Regions from separate parts of the Homo sapiens genome. Here regions 2, 3 and 4 are each reported to be linked to region 1. The links are microRNA targets in miRTarBase. Many come from high-throughput screens and were not tested one by one. Region 1 holds a microRNA gene; each other region holds the end of a gene's coding sequence.
Evidence for each region. Region 1 holds the annotated microRNA hsa-miR-3685 (UUUCCUACCCUACCUGAAGACU, at 1,679-1,700, shown strand). A microRNA usually pairs through its seed, bases 2 to 8, with sites in the 3' UTR of a target mRNA and lowers its output. Matches are read on the target gene's strand: a 7mer-m8 pairs with bases 2 to 8, a 7mer-A1 pairs with bases 2 to 7 and ends in A, and an 8mer does both.

Region 1 (3,184 bases):
TGACTTAAATAATGCTTACTCAGGCACAGTACTATCAGCTGACAACGTACAGAAGGCTCCAGAAATGTCACTCCCATCCCTTAAAGGTTGGTATATGGTCCTGGTACAGTCGTGGAGGTCCATATGGGTGAAAAGCCCAGAAGTCTACCTGAGCTGAAAGCACTCCCAAGGAGTTTGGTTTTGTTTGGGTTTGTTCTAGGTATGGTCCCAGGGATCCCAGATCAAACCAGGCCCCTGGGCCTATCCTAGAACCAACCTAAGCTCGCGCATCATTCCTGGAACATCAAGAGTGTGAAGACTGAAGATAACCTGAGGCCTACCAGACATCCTATATTCACCAAGATTCACATTTTTTGGTATGTGTGCCTACATTTTAGCAAAAATTGGTTGGTTAATCCTTCTAAAATTAGAGGGATGACATTGGGTAACAAAGTCTTCCCAGCCTTTGGCATTATAGTAATTTCTCGCAATAGAAATTCCATACAGATATTATTGCCAGTGAAGAGAGCTATTCTTGTTTATTATCAGTTCTATATTTTTAGCTGAAGCAACTTAGCCCTAAAAAACCCCAAAATCAACTTCTTCCTCCAAATTAAACTCTCCCCCAAATTTAATGGTTTCTGTTTTCTTAAATGTTTTTCTACTTGACACTGTTATGTCAGTCTCATGTAACTGAATAATTGTTCATAATTTCTGAAGAGCATTTAGTCTTTGCCATCTGGCTTCAGTGCCAAATGATTTTCAATTCTTGTTTTTGGAGACTAATGACTTTTTCCTTAATTTATTATCAAATTTGCCACATTTTAGAGCTCACTTTTAGAAGTTCTGCTATGGTTAATGAAAACAAGCTAGAATGACACAGTAGAAATTGGTTAATACGTCACATTTTACATCACTATTTTGTAGAAGATTTTTAGTAAGTTTCTCTATTTTTATTCCTTGCCACTCTGGATTTTACAAATATTCTGACCTAGTTGATCCATCACATGGTCTCATATCACAACTGTTGCATCGCTATATTCACATAGATGTTTTTCTGTTTAATTTAGAAGACAGTATTTCTGAAAAAGTATGAAACGACCCCAAATCCAAAAGTTATGGTGCACAATGAAAATGTATGCTTTTAATAATGCTGGCTTCTGCAGTAGGTGTAGACCATGTTTCAAATAACCACAGACTAATCAGAAACTCCACCTGTGAAAGGAACTTGAAATTGTGCTATTCCTCCAAGCTTATAACACCAGCAAATTGGGTCAATAGGTTATTCCTTTAAAATAGGACTATGAGCCTACAGAGGCTCACTCTGAAGAACTCAGCCGTGGAGTTAGTTCTGTACTATATCCATCACAACAGACATGCTTCATCCCATAGACTTCTTGACATAGCTTGAAATGAGTGAACCCATCCTTGATTTATATACATATATGTTCTCAGTATTTTGGGAGCCTTTCCACTTTTTTAAACCTTGTTCATTATGAACACTGAAAATAGGAATTTGTGAAGAGTTAAAAAGTTATAGCTTGTTTACGTAGTAAGTTTTTGAAGTCTACATTCAATCCAGACACTTAGTTGAGTGTTAAACTGTGATTTTTAAAAAATATCATTTGAGAATATTCTTTCAGAGGTATTTTCATTTTTACTTTTTGATTAATTGTGTTTTATATATTAGGGTAGTACATTTCCTACCCTACCTGAAGACTTGAGATTATAGTCTTTGGGGGGATGGGCAAAGTACTCTCTTTTTTTGCATCTTTTAAATTGTGATTTTTAAAAACACATATAAATTTTACTATCTTAACCATTTTTATGTGTATAGTTCAATGAGATTAAGTCCAGTCACATTGGTGTGAAACAGATCTTCAGAATTTTTTCATCTTGCAAATCTGGGACTCTATACCCATTAAACAACTCCCATTTTCCCCTTCCCCACAGCCTTGGCAACCATCATTCTACTTTTCTCTATGAATTTCACTACTTTAGATACCTCATATAAATGGAATCATACAGGATTTGTCCTTTTGTAGCTGACATATTTCACTTAACATAATGTCCTCAAGGTTCATCCATATTGTAGAATGTGATAGGATTTCCTGCCATTTTAAGGCTGAATAATATTCCACTGCATGTATTTACCACATTTTTTTATCCATTCATCTGTTGGTGGACGTTTGGGTTGCCTCCATCTCTTGGCTATTGTGAATAATGCTGCTGTAAACATGAGTGTGCAAATATCTATAATTTTTTAACACAGTACTTTATTTTCGGTATTTAATCATATGGAATTTTTGTCAATTATGTTAAAGGATTTTACAACAACCCAACTATAGATTTATATATATATGTATTATTGTTGTTCCTTCTAAGCTTAAGAAGTCTCTAATAAAATCCATACTTCCTTATATCTTTTTGTGTGTGTACCTTTTTTATTCTGCTCTTTGCCATATGGATTAATACCAAAAGGTAAAAATCCCTTTTCCTTCCTATCTGTTTTTCTTCCATTATAGTATTTTTCAGAATTTGTTAATATGCCAAAAGATGGCAGTTGTCTGGGAAAGCCATTGATTCATTACTCCAAGTTTTGTTTGTTCATTTAAGTGCCTCATATGATAATTTATCACAGTGAAAACAGCAGTGTAAATTTTAAAGTTCCATTTTTGCCATTCCCAGTGATTGTTAGCCACTGAATACATTCTGGGCATGTTATATTTATTGACTTATATAACCTCCTTGACAGAAAAGACACTGACACCAAGAAGGTCATGAACACCCGATGAAGCATACTTTGACAAGTTGGTTGAATTAATGTTACTGGTTTGAACCTTTCTAGGCTTACCTACACTCTTAGGAACATTCATGGGAACTCCAAAATGGTTCTGTATACTAAAAGCTAGTTAAAGAGAAAGTGGCCTCCCTTGAACCGGACTTTTAAATAATAAGCCATTTCTTTCCAGAAAAGATTTAAAGCAAGGAATAAATATCTATAAAGGCAATTTTTGAAACTTGACCCTTGTTTGGAATTTTCTAATTGAAAGTATGAGATAAGGTAGAATATGTGTAATTACTGGATTCTGAAGTCATTGAGTAGGAAATATCCCATATAGTAGTCCTTCCTTGTCTTCACAATTTGCTTTTGAAGGTCTTTAGCAGATGTGCTATAGCCATTGAAAATTAAGTTGGCAAATGG
Region 2 (3,184 bases), not on the chromosome of region 1:
CACATACAGTGTTCACAAGTGCTTTACAGAAGACACAGAGCAAGCAGAGATGGTCTCTGTGGCAAGGCTGGCAAGAAGCTCAATTGCTGCAAAAGTTATTAACTCTGGGTTGGGGTAGAGGGCAATGGACTTTTTACCATTTTTCAGAGCTGACCTGTGAGGATGGCTAGATACTGCAAGAGGATGCCTGGAGGAGGGAGAGGTAAAAGAAATGAGCCAGTAATTTCTTGGGTAATAGTTTTCCTAGATAATGTTTATGAGCATTTGCTATGTACTTGATGTTTTCATACTTAAAAAAAATTAAACCTCACTATGATCCTATCAGGCAGGGACTTTTGTCCCCACTTCACAGATAAAGAAACTGGAGATTTAGAATTTGAAGCCAGGTTGGTCTGCTTTCCATAGCCCATGATCTTAACTGCAAGCTAAACTTACAGGGTCGTCTGAGAATCTCTGTTCTTCCCTGTGCAGTTGAAACAATCAATGTGGCTGTACTTTTGTTGTAAGACCTGGCTCTTTCCGACTCGCTGACGTTTGCCATGCTTGTCCTGAGCTTCTCCAGAGAAATGCTGTCTTCTGGCAGGAAAAGATAAAAACGGCTGATATAAATGAGTCACCACACTCGCTATAATTAACAGTGATGCAAGAGCCAGATGCAAAATAAGAGGGGCCTCTGGACCTGACTTTTAGGCTGCCCAAACTTTGAGCTGCACTTCAATGTAAAACAGTCTCCATAGCTAGGCTTCCATCTGTTTGAGACGCATTTTAAATGAAGAAATAAAACCCGGAATGCATGCAAGCCCCAAGATAATGGAGCTGAGAGGGGCTGCACCAAATTAATCTCCTTATTTACAATTCAAAAACCATACACCAGAACAGAAAGAGAGTTTATAGTTTATAGATAATATAGATCTTTGCTTTCACACTCAGTTGCCCTGGAAAGGCTGAGCAGTTTTCAATCTGCTGAGCTGATTTATAGCAAGTACAGCTGTAAATTCAATTGTACTAGGTGTTCAGCCTATGCCCTCCCAGTGATGTATCTGAACTTTTCAAAAGGACTAGTTGTCATTAACATCTCTCTATTTTCTTTTGCTGATCTGGGATGATGGGATGCAATGACAATCTGCTTAAAATAAACCTTAAAACCTTAAAACATAATCACCACATCATCCACAAACCCCATTCAACCACAGCATGAGCACAATCACTCTGTAACACAAGGTGAAGATATTCTCTGTTGCTTCTAGGACATATAAGTCCCTCCTGAAGTTTGACAGAGAGAAATAAATTGTGGTCAGGACCTGGATAGGCTCACTAGTAGCCGTCGATGTCGGTGGCGTCTTCTCTTACCTGTTTAAAAGAGGCTCAGTGGCCTTGAGATTTGAACACAATACAGCTGATGGAATCTTGCCACTTTCCTTTTGAATAGACTTTAATTGAGAGCAAAGTGAAAAATGCAGGTTACAATTTTAAGTGTTATCATCAATATCTTGTAAGATCAACACCCAGTGATGCATCTAGTACTTATACAGTCCTAATTTTAGTTGTCAAAGAGCAAATCATTATCAGACATATATTTACACAGTAATTTCAAGCAACGGTAAATAATAAATTCCCTCCCTTAAAAAACAAAACACAACACAACACACACACACACACACACACACACACACACACGACCATCTTTAAACAATGGATTTCCTCACCCAGTAAGTCTCATTTTTTTCACATATACTTGTAGACCCAAAGGTCCTTAAGTTACTTAAAAACAGTCTTATCAGTGGAGATCCTGGACCATCCCCTATTTTCTTTTAAAGTCACTTTCATTTTTACAACTTGAAGCCATATACCAGCATGGTTTTTATACACTAAGGACACTCCCAGTGATGAAAATGAATTCCCCTCCATTTGTGCAAGGAGGTATGTACATCTATAAAGACACATATGATTACCACTCAAAAGAGTCAAAAACATACACAAAAAAATCTCAGATCTTCATAGTTTCTTAAGAGCAGTGTGCCAGTGTTCACATTGAATTAACTGAATGGTAAAATTCTTTTAGATTTCTATACAGAGGTACTGGTTAGTTCTGATTTTTTCTTCAGCTGCTTGAAATGCATGAGCTTTAAAAGTTGCCTGGCAGAACTACATCCTGCTTTCCAGGTTAGCAGCCTGGCTGACCTCGGGAATGTTAGACAAGATTCACCCCCGATGCCTTGCTCTCTGATTTATTTCTTGCTGTTGCTGTTAGTAAATGGAAACCATGACAAAGTTTACATTAGCAGACACATACACATGCCCTGGCCTATAAATATTCCATGATAGAAAATGGTACAATAATTCCATCCCCAGCGAAAACGAGCATAAAAAAAGAAGGGAAGGGTCAGGGGGACATGATCAGCTATGGCTCTTCTTACAGTAGAAAATCCACACCAAATGGCAATGGGCTTTTAACTAACCAGACATTGTTAGCTGCTTCTCCAGGGCCTGTGAGTCAACTAAAAGTAGGCAGGGCAGAGACCAACTCTTCCAGGCACACCTGGTAGTTTCCAGAAGCACCGGTATCTTGTCTTGGAAGTTGGATGAAGAAGATCAACTGAAGTTTCCTTTTTAGTGAGGAGGAGTGGAGAGTCAGACTTGAAAGCAGTTCACACACTGTGCTGCCTGGGACACTGAACGGTCCCCGAGGGAGACCCCTCAAAGCGCCAGCTGGAGTTTGGTCATGTTTCTCTGATGCATGTTGTGATGGCGGACTAATTCATCTGACCGGGCAAACTTTTTCTGACAACTTGGCCACCGACAGCTGAAGGGCTTTTCACCTGTTGACACAATTGCCAGTCAGAGACACTTGCAACAAAGAGACAGGCACAAGTTCAACTATCAAGGCCCGAGTGAAGTCATCACAAGGCACCCACTCTGAATTTCCCATCATTCTGTCCCTGAGCTAACCAACTGAGCTCATTTCCCAGGCAGCCTTGAAACAGCAGCACCTCTTGGGGCTTTAAGGATCGAAATATTGTAAAAAGTTATATTCTTAGGTCAGAAAACTTGGAAAGTGGGAGATAAAGAATGAGTCAAGTTGGGGGAAATGTCTGAGCAATTCATAATTAAGGGGAAAAACGTTTGTTTCAGTCTCTGCTGATAGAATGTTTTGTGAACTGTGTAAATTTCTCCCCCTTGTTGA
Region 3 (3,184 bases), not on the chromosome of region 1:
ATGGTAACTTGAAGAGAGTGGCATGTGCCTGCTGCCTTAGAGGTTATAGAATCCCCACAGTCAACAAAAAAGCCTCTAGAGACATGACTGTTGCCATGGAAACCAGAGAAAATGTGTCTTCTCATCCCTCATTTGTAAATGAGGGGGTGGAGCAGATCATCTGTCTCTAAGGTCTTTTTCAGTGCTAAAATGTGGTGATTCTTTGGGAAAAACTTTTTGCATCAAGTATGATTAAATATTCTGAAAGACGAGTGTAGCTTAAAATTTTTTTTGTTTTTAAATTCTGTTCATGGGTCTTCTTAAAATGGACCCTTGCCGAAAGGCGGCCTGTGACGGCCTCAGGTGGGAAGATGGATGTCCTTCCAAGGGTGTGGCTGGCAGTGGGGTTTGCATGACTGCTTCTTGTCTGTGTTTCAAGTGCTCTCATCTATTGGTTTGGTTTCCTTTCTTTTTTTTTTTTTTCTCATTGTGCCACTTTTTTTTTCCTCCCACCTTTTTATCTTCACGCAGATAAGTTTCTTTGCTTCACTTCTCCCAAGACTCCCTCGTCGAGCTGGATGTCCCACCTCTCTGAGCTCTGCATTTGTCTATTCTCCAGCTGACCCTGGTTCTCTCTCTTAGCATCCTGCCTTAGAGCCAGGCACACACTGTGCTTTCTATTGTACAGAAGCTCTTCGTTTCAGTGTCAAATAAACACTGTGTAAGCTATTTCTGTTTGCTATTCTTTTTACTTCTTATTTATTGACATTTTAGTTTCAACATTGAATAAAACTACAAAGCTGCTTCACACATATGAGGGTTAGTGTTTGGCTGCTGCTTTTTCTTTTTAAATACTGAACACTATACAGAATTATATCAGGAGTTTCTAAAGCAGTAGTTCCTTGTTGAACTTCAAAAAAATACCCAGGCCTGCATTCCCTCTCAGAGTTCTGATTTTCAAAGGTTAGAATGAGGTCTGGACATCTGGGGGGGTTTTGGGGGAATTGTGATGGCTCTGCTTTGCAGTCTGGGTCACACAGGGGACATTGCTTGTTGAGAGTTGAAAGGTCTGGCTTGATCAGTGTCTTCCTTTGCTGGAGGTTTAGCTCGGGATGTAGTGACCCCTCTGTGTTGATTATTTCGGTGGCCTTACTTGGGAGGACCTGGCTAACTAATGAAAGGCTCATGATGAATGGTTCTGTAGCTGTCCCATATTACTAGGAAGTTATACATTGAGAAGGGTGAAAAAGAACTTGGATTCAAACAATGTAAGTTTTGGTTATTGTCGATCATCCTTTTATAGCACAAAGAAAAGTTCAAGCTTTTTTGAAGTATATTCATGACTCAGCCACCTTTATTTTGATCATGAAAATGACATCTTAGGTTTTCTAAATATGATTACTCTGTTTAGTCGTGATTTGTTTTGTGCTTTTTAGCACATACTCTTTGGGAGGGATTGTACATAATCTTTGTGTTCAATGGCTGTGTTTTCATTTGTGGACATTTTTAAAATATAGCAATGAAAGTTTCTTTTTTTTTTTCCCAAAAAGATAGTTGGTGGAAATTGTTCAGAAGACAATTGTATTTCATTTGGGCTTCTGTTTTATTTCACAAACAGCAATTAAGTGATTTTTTTAAAAAAATACATTGCAAAAAATAGAACTTTAACTAATATGGACTTTAGTGTTATAATTCCCAACATTTCTCCTTCCTCAACAATCTAGCTATATATTTCTCCTGTTTTTTTTTTAACATGGATGATCTGCATGTTTTGTATATAGTTTTTTTAGCCCGAGAGGGCTGATATACCACCATACTCAAATAAATTTGGACAAACTCAGAAGATAGTGTCATTCTCACTCTACAGAGACTTCAAAGCATAGAGGAAATACTTTTTTTTAAAGAAAGCTGTGAATTAAAGTATTTTAGTCATAGTATGGTGGAATTTTAGAATCTGGACAATGTCTCTCCCTTGAGTTTATAAAGACTTCCATGATTTCATGCTTTTCTTTTCTTAAGGCTCCTTGGGCCTGCTTCTGACTATGATTCCTTCCTCATTCTTTTTTAAATTCAGAATAAGAGAAGTGTACCCTTCTCTGAGTAAATCCTGCTTCCTGATGTAGACAAAATGCCAAGTCTGAAAGTTCTGCTGAGCAGATGTTCATGTAATTCTGGAGGCACATCTGTGTTTTGGAAATCCTTCCAGAGACTTTCGCACTTTCTATAAGTACACTCTACAAGGGGAAGTGGGGCACTAATGGACTGGGAGGGCAGGTCAGGAGTAGCCCAAGGTATGCATGTGCAAGAGGAAAACTTGATAAACTCAAGTTTATCAAGAAATTGTTGATTTCTTGTTCAACTGTTGATTTGAACCAGGCTTCTGGTTCAAAGGGCCAGGCCATAGCTACAGCTGCTCTGGTGGGCCAAACCAAAAGCATCACTGAGTTTGGGCACTTGAAGTTTCAGACAGCTGGGAGTCTCCATAGAACCGGAAGGGAAAACACTTCCAAGGATATGAGCATGTCTTGTCCCTGCCTTTGGGCCACCCATGCACACCAGCTCCACAGCAGCTGAAGCAGAGCAGATCCAGAGGAGGCTGTCGGAGGGACCACTGTCCTTCCTGCTGAATTCATACTGACCCTCTGGATTCTCCAGATTTTCTCCAAAGTTCTTCCATTCTAGCCTGGCCAAACATTTGGGCTCAGCAAACTGAGACAAGCTCCCCACCCATGGCGACACTTCCTATGTCCATAGTGTGAATGTAGTAATGGGATATATGTCTTGGAACCCCCAAGCATATGTCACGTGCAAAACACCGTGGGAAGCAGTGGGGGTGTGGTAAAGAGATGGGCTGGAAAGGCTCTTTGTCCTCAATAAGCTGGGCATCTGATGGGGAGATAGAGGAGTGAAGCGAGTCCGAACTAATAGGCATGTGTATTTGGAGGCAACAAGGAAGAGAGAACCATTCTGACTGGGAGCTCCCTGGAGGAGGTAGCGGACGTTTGACTGGGGTTTGGCATATTCAAAAAATGTGGATGAGCAAAGAGGACAGAGCAGCAGATATTCCAAGCGAGAAAACATAACGAGCATAGCATCCTCCCATGTCCTACCATTTATAAGAGAATGTTAATGTGAGAACTGCTCAGTCTCCTGACAGACCCGGGGGCTGCAGGCACATTTTCCCTAGGGGTAGGTCTGTTAGCTT
Region 4 (3,184 bases), not on the chromosome of region 1:
CTGACCTGATTCCCAATTGCGGCTTGTTTTTGTTACTTTCTCACTGCTGTTACTCAAAAATCTAAACAGCAAGTAGAAATTTGTACCAAGAAAAGCTGCACTTGGCAGGGAAAACATAATTCAAATTGGAGCAGGCTCCTGATAATACATATCAAAGGCCTTAAAGTTACACATATCCCTATGACAATTATCCTAGCCAATGACAGCAGTGACAGGCTCCAAGAATTTAGGTCAAAAACTCATGACAGTATCATTCTTACAAGTCAACTAATTTTACCATTAAAAAAAAAATCTCATTCTAACATCAAGAAAAATCTTGATGTCTCAGGAAATCGTCTCCCCTCACTCATCTGAAAAAAGCAGTATATCCCATCTTGGTAGCCGACTTTATTCACTCAACTTGATTATACACTATTTTAGGCAGGTGTGTTTGGTTTTTTGGTTTTGGGGGGTTTTTTGTGCAGATTTCTTTTGTGTGTGTATGGTCTTTTTACAAAGTTCAACTGCATCCATATGGGATGATTCACTAGTTGAGGATATTCAAGATATGCAAGTATTAGAAGCATTAATAATAGAAGAGCCTCTGAAGTGACTCATTTCAAGGAGGCTTTAGAAAGATGCGGTCACTTAATCTGGTAAAAAATCACGTTCTGGGAGGGATTTTCAGAAATTTCAGCATATAGAGAAGTGACAAGGATAATAAGCAGTACAACATACTTGAGCTTGGGTTTTGAAATCAGATATGGGCTTGAATTATCTGACCGAATTACTCTGTGTAAGTTTCTCCATCTGAAAAGTAGGCCAAATGAGAAGAGCTCCTTGTAAGAGGAATAAGAATATATAAGTGAACCATGGGATATCTGCACCATGCCGGGCACTTTGAATGTATCATCTCATCTAACTGCCATGCTCTATGAGACAGCTATTAGTCCTATTTCACAGACGAAGTAAGGTTAAAAGGTTAAATTCCCAGAGGTTACATGTCTAGTAAGAGACAGCCAAGATTCACTCTCAATAATAGAATTCTAAAATATGCATTTCTCTTAAACCAGGATTCTTTAAATGTTATTAACCAAGAGCATTTTTCTAGGTTTTTAAATAGGATTATCATAAATGTACACTAAACAACTTCCTCCACATCAAAAGTCACTATAAAACATTCTCAATAACCTTCATAGTAACTTGAAACAAGCCAATTTAGGAAATTACCAAACCACCTAATTGGATATATTATATAAATTTATTTGTTCGTTGTAATTTTTTGCTTTTCTGATAATCATTATCCCACAAAATACACATTCCAAGACTGAGGAAAGTGAGGTAACTAAAAGTGCTTTCACAATACATTCATGTTATTGTGTCCCGCAATCTATAAAGGCAACCCACTTACAGTATATGGATTTTAGCTTTGGTATCCAATTAAATATCCTCAAAAATGAATCATTTTTAAAGGTTATATGGTAAAATTAAAACATCTGATTATGTAATTATGTAATTCTAGCATAAAAAATTAAAGTATCTTTTTATTCCTAGAATACAAAATAGGAATAACTGCTACATACTTAAATTGTGCTTACGTTTGATTTTCCTATTCCAACACAACTGGCCCATGAAAGGTCTTTCTTTTCTCTCTATATTATCACCATTATTGCTCAATGGGCAGTATCTAAAAATAGAATCTAGAAAGCCAGAAACCACAAAAATAACATCTTGGGGCCAGTTTGAAGCAAAGTAAACAGAATATACAATGACAGACAAACAGGCAGAATCACCTAAGACGAAAACAAAATTCCACTTCATTTTAACGAATGTAGTTAAATTGAATAGGCTCATTATCAAGAGCTGAACACGGCTCTCTGTTCTTTCCGGTATTCTAAAAGATGCATAAACACAAAAACCATCCAGTTCTAGATTTGAAAATTGAAGGGAATCGCTTTTAATCTATTCTGGCTCAGGGGATTGCTGTAAAAAAAAAAATTAAATAAAGATGTATATCACACAATTACCTGGTTGTCTAATTTATAATGACAAGTCATGGGAAGCCTATTTGCAGGAATTGGTTCTGACTTGGAGAAAAAAAACACAACTTCTTGAAAAGGTAAAATAGCTTAAAGCATTTAATATCTAAACAAATCAATCTGTTAATAGTAGTCACAAAATATGCTTAATATAGAAACCCACATTCATGTTTTTAAGAAAAAAGTGTAAATTGTATTCCACCTCAAAACATAAATTAACCCGCTTAAAGAATCTTCAGCGGTCAAAGTCATGGTGAATTTTAAACAACTTCAGAGTAAAATAACAAGTACTTTATACTGCTTTATATCTAAAAAATGCTTACAACTTCTCATAAAAATAGTTTGAAGCAACTATTTTTTCTTTTATTTTTTAACAGACACGTTCAACATTACGGGCAACATTTTTAAAACCTTAAGCTTTACAGACTTTCAAACATTCAAATACTGTGGTCCCTTTCCTTTGATGTGGTTTATTCAGCTAGAAAAGAAAACATGGTAGACAACTTAATACATTTTCACCAAATTGAAAGTAGTACAAAAATTTTAGGACTCTACCGAACTACACATCGTACCTAATGTATCATTAAAAATAGAAGACAGTATTTTCTTCAGCAAATAAAACAGCATACTAATATGCTGCTAATGCATACCTTTTAATGTGTACTGTCATTCATAAATTATTTACAACTGCTACTGTGTGAAGAGAACTAGAATGTAAATTTTCTGCAAAACTGGAAAAAAAGCAATACAAAATTTGTGAAAGCCTGTGTTTTATACTATACAAAAGTCAGTTTTTCTCTTCAAATACCAGATATTGTATGCAGTGATATTTTGGACACATTATAGTAATTCTTGAGGATGTTTTAGTGCTGGAGGTAAGTTTACAGGCCTCGATTCTTCATCAAGGAGTACTAGATCTTCTATTTCACTGCCTCTGTATTTCCTTTTACATATTTTTACCACCACCTTTTTCTTGAGAAATAACTTCAATGCTTCTCTTGATGCAACTGCTTTTGCATTTTCTTTGCTTTTTCCACAGCCAGTGCCCAAATACACAGACTTGCACCTCAATTCACAAACAATACTTTCTTGAGAGCTCTTATTTTGAGGCAGATCTGCCAATTCTTTTAGTGGGACAAAAAATACATCCAGTGTTGCTTTCAGAG

Region 2: the mRNA of WT1 is a reported target of hsa-miR-3685. The part of its 3' UTR that is shown has no 7-base or 8-base seed match.
Region 3: the mRNA of TPM1 is a reported target of hsa-miR-3685. The part of its 3' UTR that is shown has no 7-base or 8-base seed match.
Region 4: miRTarBase lists CDKN2AIP as a target of hsa-miR-3685. Seed matches in the 3' UTR shown: 7mer-A1 at 1,585-1,591.

The regions. Positions count from the first base shown.
Region 1 is chr12:95,308,250-95,311,433 of GRCh38, forward strand. It overlaps MIR3685 (microRNA 3685), which reads left to right and starts at 1,674; the gene lies at 1,674-1,735. It overlaps MIR331 (microRNA 331), which reads left to right and starts at 171; the gene lies at 171-264.
Region 2 is chr11:32,386,361-32,389,544 of GRCh38, forward strand. It overlaps WT1 (WT1 transcription factor), which reads right to left. Exons shown (of 10, transcript NM_024426.6): 10 at 1,415-2,819. The coding sequence ends at 2,698. Among named protein-coding and RNA genes, the nearest start is that of WT1-AS, 48 kb to the right of the region's middle. RefSeq lists enhancers at 513-657, 535-883, 535-792 and a cis regulatory region at 577-594.
Region 3 is chr15:63,065,386-63,068,569 of GRCh38, forward strand. It overlaps TPM1 (tropomyosin 1), which reads left to right. Exons shown (of 10, transcript NM_001018005.2): 10 at 511-793. The coding sequence ends at 514. Among named protein-coding and RNA genes, the nearest start is that of TPM1-AS, 18 kb to the left of the region's middle.
Region 4 is chr4:183,447,102-183,450,285 of GRCh38, reverse strand. CDKN2AIP (CDKN2A interacting protein) reads right to left here. Exons shown (of 3, transcript NM_017632.4): 3 at 1,222-3,184. The coding sequence ends at 2,859. Among named protein-coding and RNA genes, the nearest start is that of CDKN2AIP, 4.1 kb to the right of the region's middle.